2 separate regions of the Homo sapiens genome follow, and region 2 is linked to region 1. The links come from fine-mapping of genetic effects on gene expression. A gene starts in region 1. The other region holds a variant in brackets. All regions are shown on one strand. Distances are from middle to middle. Region 1 holds the start of CBX1 (chromobox 1). Region 2 overlaps LOC101927166 (a long non-coding RNA gene).

The links. PIP is the estimated chance that this variant, and not a neighbour inherited with it, causes the effect. A credible set is the group of variants that fine-mapping cannot tell apart.
Region 2: its variant is the best candidate, but not a certain one, in a credible set for the expression of CBX1 in lung (TOPMed, PIP 0.83).

The regions. Positions count from the first base shown.
Region 1 is chr17:48,098,494-48,103,493 of GRCh38, reverse strand. It overlaps CBX1 (chromobox 1), which reads left to right and starts at 2,016. Exons shown (of 5, transcript NM_001127228.2): 1 at 2,016-2,226. RefSeq lists enhancers at 1,598-1,857, 1,684-2,283 and a silencer at 2,228-2,277.
Region 2 is chr17:48,446,854-48,452,380 of GRCh38, reverse strand. The region is part of intron 2 of LOC101927166 (a long non-coding RNA gene); the gene reads right to left. Among named protein-coding and RNA genes, the nearest start is that of SKAP1, 19 kb to the right of the region's middle. The variant T/G (reference allele first, on the strand shown) is at 3,440.

The DNA.
Region 1 (5,000 bases):
AGCTCTTAAAGCTGGCAGGGACCCAAAGAGTGAGCAGCAGCAAGATTTGTTGTGAAGAGCGAAAGAACGCGAAAGAACAAGGCTTCCATAGCGTGGAAACCGACCTGAGCAGGTTGCTGCTGCGGGCTAACAGGAATGGGTGGGGGGCAGGGGGCCAGCTTTTACACCCTTGTTTGTCCCTGCCCATTTGCTATTTCTGTCCTATCAGAGTGCCCTTTTTTCAATCCTCCCTGTGATTGGCTACTTTTAGATTCCTGCATTTTACAGAGCGCTGATTGGTGCATTTTGCAGAGTGCTGATTGGTGCATTTTACAATCCTCTTGCTAGCTACAGAGGGCTGATTGGTGTGTTTTTACAGAGTGCTGATTGGTATATTTTACAATCCCCTTGCTAGGTATAGAGCGCTGATTGGTGCATTTCACAATCCTCTTGTAAGACAGAAAAGTTCTCCAAGTCCCCACTCGACCCAGGAAGTCCAGCTGGCTTCACCTCTCATCTTCTCTGTGCTTTCTTGAAGCCCTTTTAACTAAACTCTATTATGATATTGCTGGGCTGGGTTTTTCTTACATGACAGTTCTCCAGAGCCGTGAACAGTGCCTGCATCAGCAAAACTGTCTTATAAATGCAAACTCCTGCCCTGAACAGTGCCTGCATCAGCAAAACTGTCTTATAAATGCAAACTCTTGCCTTTTGGGGTAGAGTGCAATAGAGTTTCCCTCTTCCTCCTGATTAGAAGGATACTTTAAAATAAAAAAATAAAACTTTAGTTATATTGTGGCTTAAAAACATGTTTTTTTCCTAATTGTGTGTTTCCTTGGGATGATTGGGTGAAAGGTGCTGACGGAGATTAATGACACTGAAAAAGGTGAGCACAACTTACAATGAAAAAGAGGACATTTTTGTGGCGCAGCCAGTGAAAAGGGGGAAATTCAGGAAGCTATGAGAGGCCTATGGGGGGACCTAACCTACTCTAGGGAATCAGGGAAGACCTCAAAGGGGAAGTAATCTTAACACTGAACAGTATTTTTTTTTTTAGACGAAGTTTCGCTCTTGTTGCCCAGGCTGGAGTGCAATGGCGCGATCTCGGCTCACTGTAACCTCCACCTCCTGGGTTCAAGCGATTCTCCTCCCTCAGCCTCCCGAGTAGCTGGCACTACAGGCGCCCGCCACGACGCCCAGCTAATTTTTGTATTTTAGTAGAGATGGGGTTTCACCATGTTGGCCAGGCTGGTCTTGAAACCCTGACCTCAAGTGATCCACCCACCTCCGCCTCCCCAAGTGTTGGGATTATAGGCTTGAGCCACCGTGCCGGCGTGAGTAGGAATTTTACAGAGATTTGAGGAGGCAGAGATTGAGGACTAAGAAATCATTGGAAATTTGAGGCAGCGGCGATATGATAAAGTTCTGGTGAAGAATCTAAGATTCAAAAATTTTGAGGATGTGAATTACAGAACTGTCCAGAAGTGGTTGATTTTTTGGGGGCCAAGCATCAGGGGGCTCGCTTATAAAAATCATATGTTCTAATTTTTTTTTTTTTTTTTTTTTGAGATGGAGTCTCGCTCCATCGCCCAGGCTGGATCGCAGTGGCTGGATCTCGGCTCACTGCAAGCTCCGCCTCCCAAGTTCAAGCAATTCTTGTCTCAGCCTCCTGAGTAGCTGGGACTACAGGCACCTGCCACCACGCTCGGCTAATTTTTGCATTTTTAGTAGAGACAGGGTTTCACCTTGTTGGTAAGACTGGTCTCGAACCCCTGACCTCAGGTGATCCACCCGCCTCGGCCTCCCAAAGTGCTGGGATGACAGGCGTGAGCGACTGCCCCTGGCCCATATGTTCTAATATTCTAGGTTACAACGCTCTACGCTGCAATCTCTCCACCGTTACAGTTTAAAAACTATAAGTCCCTACCACCCTCGCCTACTGTGCGTGCGCGGCGCGCGGCGCTTCGGGCCTTGTAGTCTTGGACAGACCCCCGAGGCCCATGGTGCCGTGCGGCGGGTCGTTGCGCCTGCGCGGTGCGAGCGGCGGGCAGCGCAGACTGCGAGGCTCTTTTGTTCGGCTGAGGGGAGGGCCGTTGGCCGGGGCCTGCGGTACGCCGCTTCAGTGAGGGACGCCACTGCGGCCACCCGGCTTGCTGCCTTCCTGGGCGCCACTCCCCCAGGCGACCCGACGCGACGCGCCAGCAGCGCAGCACCGATTCCTCTCGGGCTCTTGGGCGCTGCTCTGAGGTGAGGAGCCCGCTGGAGGCGGGAGAGCTGGGGGAGGGGGCGCGGCGGCGGCGGCGGCGGGAGCCCTGCGTGAGGGAACGCGCTTTCGAGGCGGAGGTTAGGAGCGGGGAGCGCGCCCGGGTCCAGCGTCCTGCTTCTCCGCTTCCCGCGCTGAGCTCTTCGCCTGTCGCTGAGGCGTCGGTGCCAGCTGCGTGAAGGATGGAGAGGGCGGGGCGCGAATCCTGAGCCAGAGACTGAGTGCTTGGGGGTGGGCCGAGCACTTGGGGGCCGCTCTTCGGGGCCCGGGTGGTCTGGAACAATGTTGCTTGGCTGGGCGGCTGCGGGATAGGGCGGAAGGGGACAGGCTTGAGGCTTGGATAGGCGTGAGGAGGCGCATACGACCGCACAACCCGAGGTTTGTAACTGTATTCGGAAGACGCCGGGTCCGGCTGGGACTGCCAGAGGAACCTGGCTTTGCAGGACTACGGAGGAGTAACGTCGAGTGAATTGGAAGAGGGCCCAGGGCCGCACAAGGTGTGCTGATTGGAGGAGGAGATGTGTGGAATAAATTGGGAAAGGGGACACGGAGGGGGAGGGGCAGGCGTTTGCTGGGCCTGACTCTGGAAGGGGAGGAGCTGTTAGGATAAGTAGGGCGGAGATCCCGAGAATATTTCTATAAGGTATGTAAGAAAAAAGGGGAAAGCAGGCCGCCCTTGCATCCTGATGGGTCCTTACAGTGGGGAGGCTGTAAGAATAATGTGCGAAGAAAGGATGGAATACGCTTTTTTCAGTTTTCCAGGTTTCCTACTACCTTCACTCCATGATTCCTTTGGGGAGTTAAAAAAGTCCAAGTGCAGTTCTTGCTTTGATTCAAAATTAGTTCCGTACGTTTTTGTGTGGGATCGTAACTGGTCTCACAAAGGTGATGAAATTGTAAAAATATGTAGATGAGTTAATAGTTGAGGAACGGCGTGAGGTAGTGAGAGATTGTGAGATCGTGTGAGGTGCGAGAAATTGGGAGACATAGGAAAATTATGTGAGATTGTGAGGTAATATTTGTTTCGTGGGCCCTTCTGTTTTTAGCCAGCTTTTCCTTGTTGGAAAATTTGAATAGAGTGAGCTATATTTTACCTCTTTTTTTTTTTTTTTTTGAGAAGAGTCTTCCTCTGTTGCCCAGGCTGGAGTGCAGTGGTGCGATCTTGGCTCACTGCAACCTCCACCTCCCGGATTCATGCGATTCTCTTGCCTCAGCCTCCCGACTAGCTGGGATTACAGGCACACGCCACCACGCCCGGCTAATTTTTGTATTTTTAGTAGAGACGGGGTTTCACCGTACTGGTCACGCTGGTCTCGAACTCCTGACCTCGTGATCCTCCCGCGTCGGCCTCCCAAAGTGCTGGGATTATAGGCGTGAGCCACTGCGCCTGGCCATATTTTACCTCTTTTTCAAAGTTTCAAATGAGGGTTTTTCATAAATTGGTGTTACATTTAGACGTGTTGGTTTAACGCAATTGAGGTGGAATTTACAAAAAGTTCAGCTATAATCAGTTATATACTAGAACCCCTAGCCCAGGGTAAAGTAGCCTCCTCAATTGTGTTAAGAGTCACATCAGCAGTTTGGAAAGATTGTGAAAGGTCCAAGGCTTTGGAATAGATTCAGGAATACAATGGGGAAATTAATGCCGGTGTTCCTCCCTAGGTGCCTTATAGACTTTTATATGAAAGTGGTGTGATTGAAAAGCACTTGTATTGAAACCGGTGGCACCTTAATGAAGCTTCACGGGAGTGGAGGACCTGAAGTCGTTTACGGTTTTCCCTGTGGTGATATTTTTCTTCAATGGCTGCTGTATCCTAAATTGTTTCTCATTAAAAAAATAAATAGTAGGGTCGGGCGCAGTGGCTCAAGCCTGTCATCCCAGCACTTTGGGAGTCTGAGGTGGGCGGATCATGAGGTCAAGAGATCGAGACCATCCTGGCCAACCAACATGGTGAAACCCTGTCTCTACTAAAAATACAAAATTAGCTGGGCCTAGTGGCGCATGCCTGTAGTCCCAGCTACTCGGGAGGCTGAGGCAGGAGAATCGCTTGAACCCGGGAGGCAGAGGTTGCAGTGAGCCGAGATCTGCACCACTGCACTCCAGCCCGGGCAACAGAGCGAGACTCTGTCTCAAAAAAAAGAAAAGATAGATGATAGGTAGATAGATGGTGTGTGAAATAAATAGTTTTGAATGTAAATAGAAGCCTAGTGGTAAGTAAGTTACCCTGGTCTTCTGCATTTCTGAATACAGGATACCTATAACTTACAAACTATACCTCTAAAGAAAGATAGCACTCATTCTTGTGCCCATTTTAAGGACTAGGAAAATGTTTCTCTTTGTTGTTCACACCATTTGAAAATAATTCATTAAATTTTGGCATCCTCTAGTGGTTTATCTAGCAAAACCTCCCTTTTTTAAAAAAAAATCCTATCTGCAGTGGTGTAAGAGATTTTGCATTAGATTTGGTAGATTTTCACTTCATAGGTTCTTTCCACGAAGAGTTTCTGGTGTAGAAGGCTAATTGCTAGTTTATGGGCTCCCATAAAATGGAGCCATACTGGCCCCATCTCTACTAAAAATACAAAATTAGCTGGGCGTGGTGGTGCACACCTGTAATCCCAGCTACTTGGGAGGCTGAGGCAGGAGAATCGTTTGAACCCGGGAGGCAGAGGTTGCCATGAGCCGAGATCGCGCTATTGCACTCCAGCCTGGGCAACAAGAGCGAAACTCTGTCTCAAAAAAAGAAAAATGAAAAAA
Region 2 (5,527 bases), 350 kb before region 1:
GCTTTAGCCATGATTCTTTTGGGTTAGATCCTTTAAATAGTTGAGCCCTGTGGCAAATAATAGGCTTTGTAATAGCTAATGTGTAGGATGCTTTAAATAAGATAGAAGGCCAGGCATGGTGGCTCGCGCCTGTAATTCCAGCACTTTGGGAGGCTGAGGTGGGCGGATCATGAGATCAGGAGTTCAAGACCAGCCTGGCCAACATGAAGAAACCCCGTCTCTAATAAAAATACAAAAAATTAGCTGGGTGTGGTGGCACACACCTGTAATCCCAGCTACTGGGGAGGCCGAGGCAGGAGAATCTCTTGAACCCAGGAGGTGGAGGTTGCAGTGAACCGAGATCATGCCACTGCACTCCAGCCTGAGTGACAGAGCAAGACTCCGCCTCAAACAAACAAACAAAAAGAAAAGAAAAGAAAAGAAAATTTCCTGTATATTAGCTCAAGGAAATAAATTATTTTGTCCCAATTTTGGCTCTGGCTTCGTGGCCTTGAACAGGTCACCTATCTCTCTGGGTTTCAGTTTCCTCATCTGTGTGGTGAAAGATGTATTAGATTACTCCTGCTGTCTCCAACATCCTAGCCCCATACCAATCAAACACAGGGCTAGCTCATTTCTCTTTAGGAGCATCTGTCATTCAGGTGACCCTAACTTGGCTTGAAGATCAGTGGGGAACCCCAGACTCCTGTTGTGGCAGATCAAATTTCATTTCTTTGGTCAACTCATTTGGTCACAGTAGAGATCACATGTACTTGCAGTGTTAGTATTTATGTGTTTTTGCCATTTTAGTTCCATGACTCTTCTACACAAGTGGGTGGGTTCATGTGGTTTTACGGTGCCTAGGCCAGGGTCCTTAAAACTCTCCTGCCAATGATTTCCCACCCCCGACCCATCCTGAATGCTGGCATAATGCATTCACCATTAGAAATGGCTCTATTAGGTCAAGGAATTGTTTCTAGTTAAAGTGAAAATACATTATGAAAAGAAGTAATACATTAATATATTAACCTCAGCTAACTTCATTAGCACTTATTACACATAAGGTTAGCTAACTGGTTATCATTTTGGAGGGCAGAGAGCAGATCTGGAGGAGAAAGGGAGCCCAGGCTTGACAAAGTTTGACTGGGAGAAAGGGTTCCCGAGAAAAGCAAGATTAGGTGAGGCGCCACAATGGGACACACTGGGAACCTTGGAGACAGCATGAATGTATGAATGTACTTCTTTATTTATTTATTTATTTGAGCCCAGACTAGAGTGCAGTGGTGTAATCTTGGCTCACCGCAACCTCCGCCTCCCAGGTTCAAGCAATTCTCCTGCCTCAGCCTTCGCAGTAGCTGGGATTACAGGCGCACTCCACCACACCCAGAACATTTTTGTATTTTTAGTAGAGACGGGGTTTTGCCATATTGGCCAGGCTTGTCTCGAACTCTTGACCTCAGGTGATCCATGTGCCTAAGCCTCCCAAAGTGCTGGGATTACAGGTGAGAGCCACCGTGCCGAGTTGAATGTACTTCTTTCCTTCATTCAAACAAATAAACATTTATCAAGCCTCCATTATATGCTAGGCACTCTGTCAGGTGTTGTGGATACAGAGATGAGTAAAAATTAGTTGTGATTCCTAAGGAGATATGATCTAGTTGGGGAGAGGGATGAAATGTAAAGTAGGCAAGAAAGTACTACATGCACACACACAGATGTATATGTGTACACATATACATCTTCAGTGCGTGCGCAAGATAAGGAGTGGCCAATTCTTGGGAGGCATCAGAACAAATTTCATGGAGTCAGTATTTCTTTCCTTCCTCATATGAAGAAGGAGCCGTGACGGGGAGGGAGGATGAACAAGCTGCAGCTACCTCATTATTTTTATCTAGGGCCAGCCTTGATAAGGGAAGTGAAAACTCTTCTTTGTGATTGGATAATGAGACAAATAAATTTATAGAGGAATTGGAGGCAGAGTCCCATTTGAATCCTATCCTTTGACCTTTGGAGGGCAGGCTGTCTACCCAGCATCTGAGAGTCACCAGTAGCAACATGGGGTACAGCTTTTGGTGGCTGAGAGCATGGGCTTTGCTGTCAGACTCTCTGGGTTTGAGCCCTGGCTCTTTGACCTTGGGCAAAGTACTTAACATCCATGGCTCCGGTTTTCTTGTTTGTAAAATGGGGAAGAAAATAACACCTGTTTCATGGAGTTGGGAGAATTAAATGTAATAATGCATAGAAAACACTGTAGTAATTATCATGGATTTTTCTGAGATGTGTTCTATGAAACAAAAATGACCTAATTCAGTAGTAGAGCCGAGTGATTCTAGCTCTAGTTCAGTATCTTTTACTTCACTGGCAAAACTGACAGCTAGTCCGTGGTGTTCCAGGGATCTTGCAAATCTTTTTTATAACCCCTTTGTCTGCCTTGTATTCCCATCCAGTTCTTTTGTAATTATGATCATGCCTCACATTCAGAAAATTCAGGACAGGAAAATCTGAGTGTGTTAAATTATACATCTAGGGTTTGTTTTTTGTTTTTTTGTTTTTACTTTAAGTTTTGGGATACACGTGCCGAACGTGCTGGTTTGTTACATAGGCATACATGTGCCATGGTGGTTTGCTGCACCTAAGTTTTAAGCCCCGTGTGTATTAGGTATTTGTCCTAATGCTCTCCCTCCCATTGCCCGCCACCCCCCAACAGGCCCTGGTTTATGATGTTTCCCTCCCTGTGTCCATGTGTTCTCATCGTTCAACTCCCACTTATGAGTGAGAACATGCAGTGTTTGGTTTTCTATTCCTGTATTAGTTTGCTGAGAATGATGGCTTCCAGCTTCATCCATGTCCCTGAAAAGGACATGAACTATTCTTTTTTAAGGCTGCATAGTATTCCATGGTGTATATGTGCCACATTTTCTTTATCCAGTCTATCATTGATGGGCATTTGGATTGGTTCCAAGTCTTTGCTTTTGTAAATAGTGCTGCAATAAACATACGTGTGCATGTGTCTTTATATTAGAATGATTTATAATCCTTTGGGTATATACTCAGTAATGGGATTGCTGGGTCAAATGGTATTTCTGTTTCTAGATCCTTGAGGAATCACCACACTGTCTTCCACAATGGTTGAACTAATTTACACTCCCACCAACAGTGTAAAAGCATTCCTATTTCTCCACAGCCTCGTCAGCCTCACCAGCATCTGTTTTTCCTGACTTTTGAATAATCGCCATTCTGACTGGTGTGGGATGGTATCTCATTTTGGTTTTGATTTGTGTTTCTGTAATGACCAGTGTACATCTAGGGCTTTATATTCGTATTACAAAATAATTATTTGTTTTAAAGGAGAATTAATCTTTATGAAGTTAATTTCCTATGTACCTGCAAAGCTGAATGCAAAATATAAAAACTTATTTTTACATACATCTTAGAATCATAGAATTGTGAAACCTTAAAG[T/G]TGGAACAGGCCTTAGAAATCATCTAGGCTAGTGGTTTTCAAATTTTTATTATAGCTGCCCTATTTCTGTAAAAGTGTTATATTTCTTAGATGCATGATGCAGATGAAAGCAGAGTTACTCTGATTAAACCAGGATGGGGAGGTGGAGTACTCACTCCTTTGCCCTCTTGCCCTATCCTGGAAGCAGCTTCTGAACACCTCTGAGTAAGCCAAAGGCTTCTAGGAACATAAATTTGAGTTCCACTGATCCCACTTAACAATTTCGTTTTGTACATTCCTTTTGTAAAACGTGGTTCTACTGTTTTTCTATTAATTCAACTGTCTTATTTTCTTTTTTAAATTATAGGTTCCTTGAGGGCAGGAACCTTTTTAATAAAAAAATTCTGGGCTGGATGTGATGGCTCACACCTGTAATCTCAACACTTTGGGAGGCCGAGGTGGGAGGACTGCTTGAGCCTAGGAGTTCGAGACTAGCCTGAACAACATAGGGAGAACCTGTCTCTACAAAATAAAAATAAAAATAAATTAGCCAGGTGTGGTGGTGCACTGTATAGACTCAGCTACTCAGGAGGCTTAGGCAGGAGGATTGCATGAGCCTGGGAGGTCAAGGCTGCAGTGAACTGTGTTTGTACCACTGCACTCCAGCCTGGGTGACAGAGTGAGACTCTGTCTCAAGAAAAAAGAAAAAATTCTTAGTGTACTTTCTCTGCATGTGAGTATTTAAGGCCTTGTCAAAACCTTCCTGTTAGTGTCAGAAATGACCAGAGACTATAATTATATATAAACATCCTTTATTGAATCTTTGAAAAGTGATTTCATAGAACCATAGAATTTTCAGCTTGAAGGGACCCTGGAGAACATGAACTTTAACATTCTCATTTTCTGGATGTGGAAACTGGGGCCCAGAAAAGTGGTTTGGTTGATGTCATGTAGTGACTTAATGGTAGAGCTGGGACAAGAGTCCTGGATGCCTGATTCTTGGTTTAGGGCTGTTTCAACTTATAACTTACACTGCTAGGATATTATAGATTTGTATTCCTGAGAATACACTTCAACTACCTACAAATCGTCTAACTTTTCTCAATAGTTAGACTAGAGAACTATCTTTATAATCCATGGCTTATGTTTTATTATGTGTTTGTTTTGTTTTGTTTTGTTTGTTTGTTTTGAGACTGGCTCTCACTGTCACCCAGGCTGGAGTGCAGTGAGTGGCATGATCACAGCTCACTGCAACCTTGAACTCCCAGGTTCAAGTGATCCTCCTACCTCAGCCTCCCAAGTAGCTGGGACTACAAGCATGTGCCACCATGCCTGGCTAGTGTTTTTTAGTCTTTGTAAAGATGAGGTCTCATTATGTTGCCCAGGTTGGTCTTGAACTCTGGAGCTCAAGCAGTCCTCTCGCCTCTCAAAGTGCTGGGATTACAGGCATGAGCCACTGTGCCTGGCTCTGTGTAATTTTTTTAGTAATAAAAATTAAGAAGTACTGACATGAAGAGATGTCCATGATATAGTAAATAGAAATGCAACTATTAGATATGTCCCTTTTTGTTTAAAGCTTTGGATATTTCCCTAAGGTTTATCTGGGTGTATTTTTCTATGGTCACTCTTGACTCAAGTATCTAGTGAACACCCAAGGATTTAATGATATAATAACCACATCTGTTAATTTTTATAAGTTGGCTTTCATGCCCTTATAACTCTTATAACAACCATAAAGTTATAAATTTACTTTCTTATTCTTTTTAACTATTACAGTGTTGCATAGTATCTATGCATCATAATTTTATAATTTATTTACTCAATTCCTTATTGACAACATTTAGGTTATCTCTGAATTTCAAAAAGTTGCAGTGAAATTCCTCACACATACATCGTTTTGCATAGCTGTGAGCATTTTTGTGGGATAGATTCCTAGAAGTGAAATTGCCGGATCAAATTTTGAGATACATTCATCCTCATATTTGTCTTTTGTTGCTGAAACTAAAATGAATAAACTCCAACATCTGTACCTAACTTTGTAGTCTATTGAGGTTTTTACACACAGAAAGGTATTTGAAGCTTTAAACATCTGTGTGGGTTTATGGATGG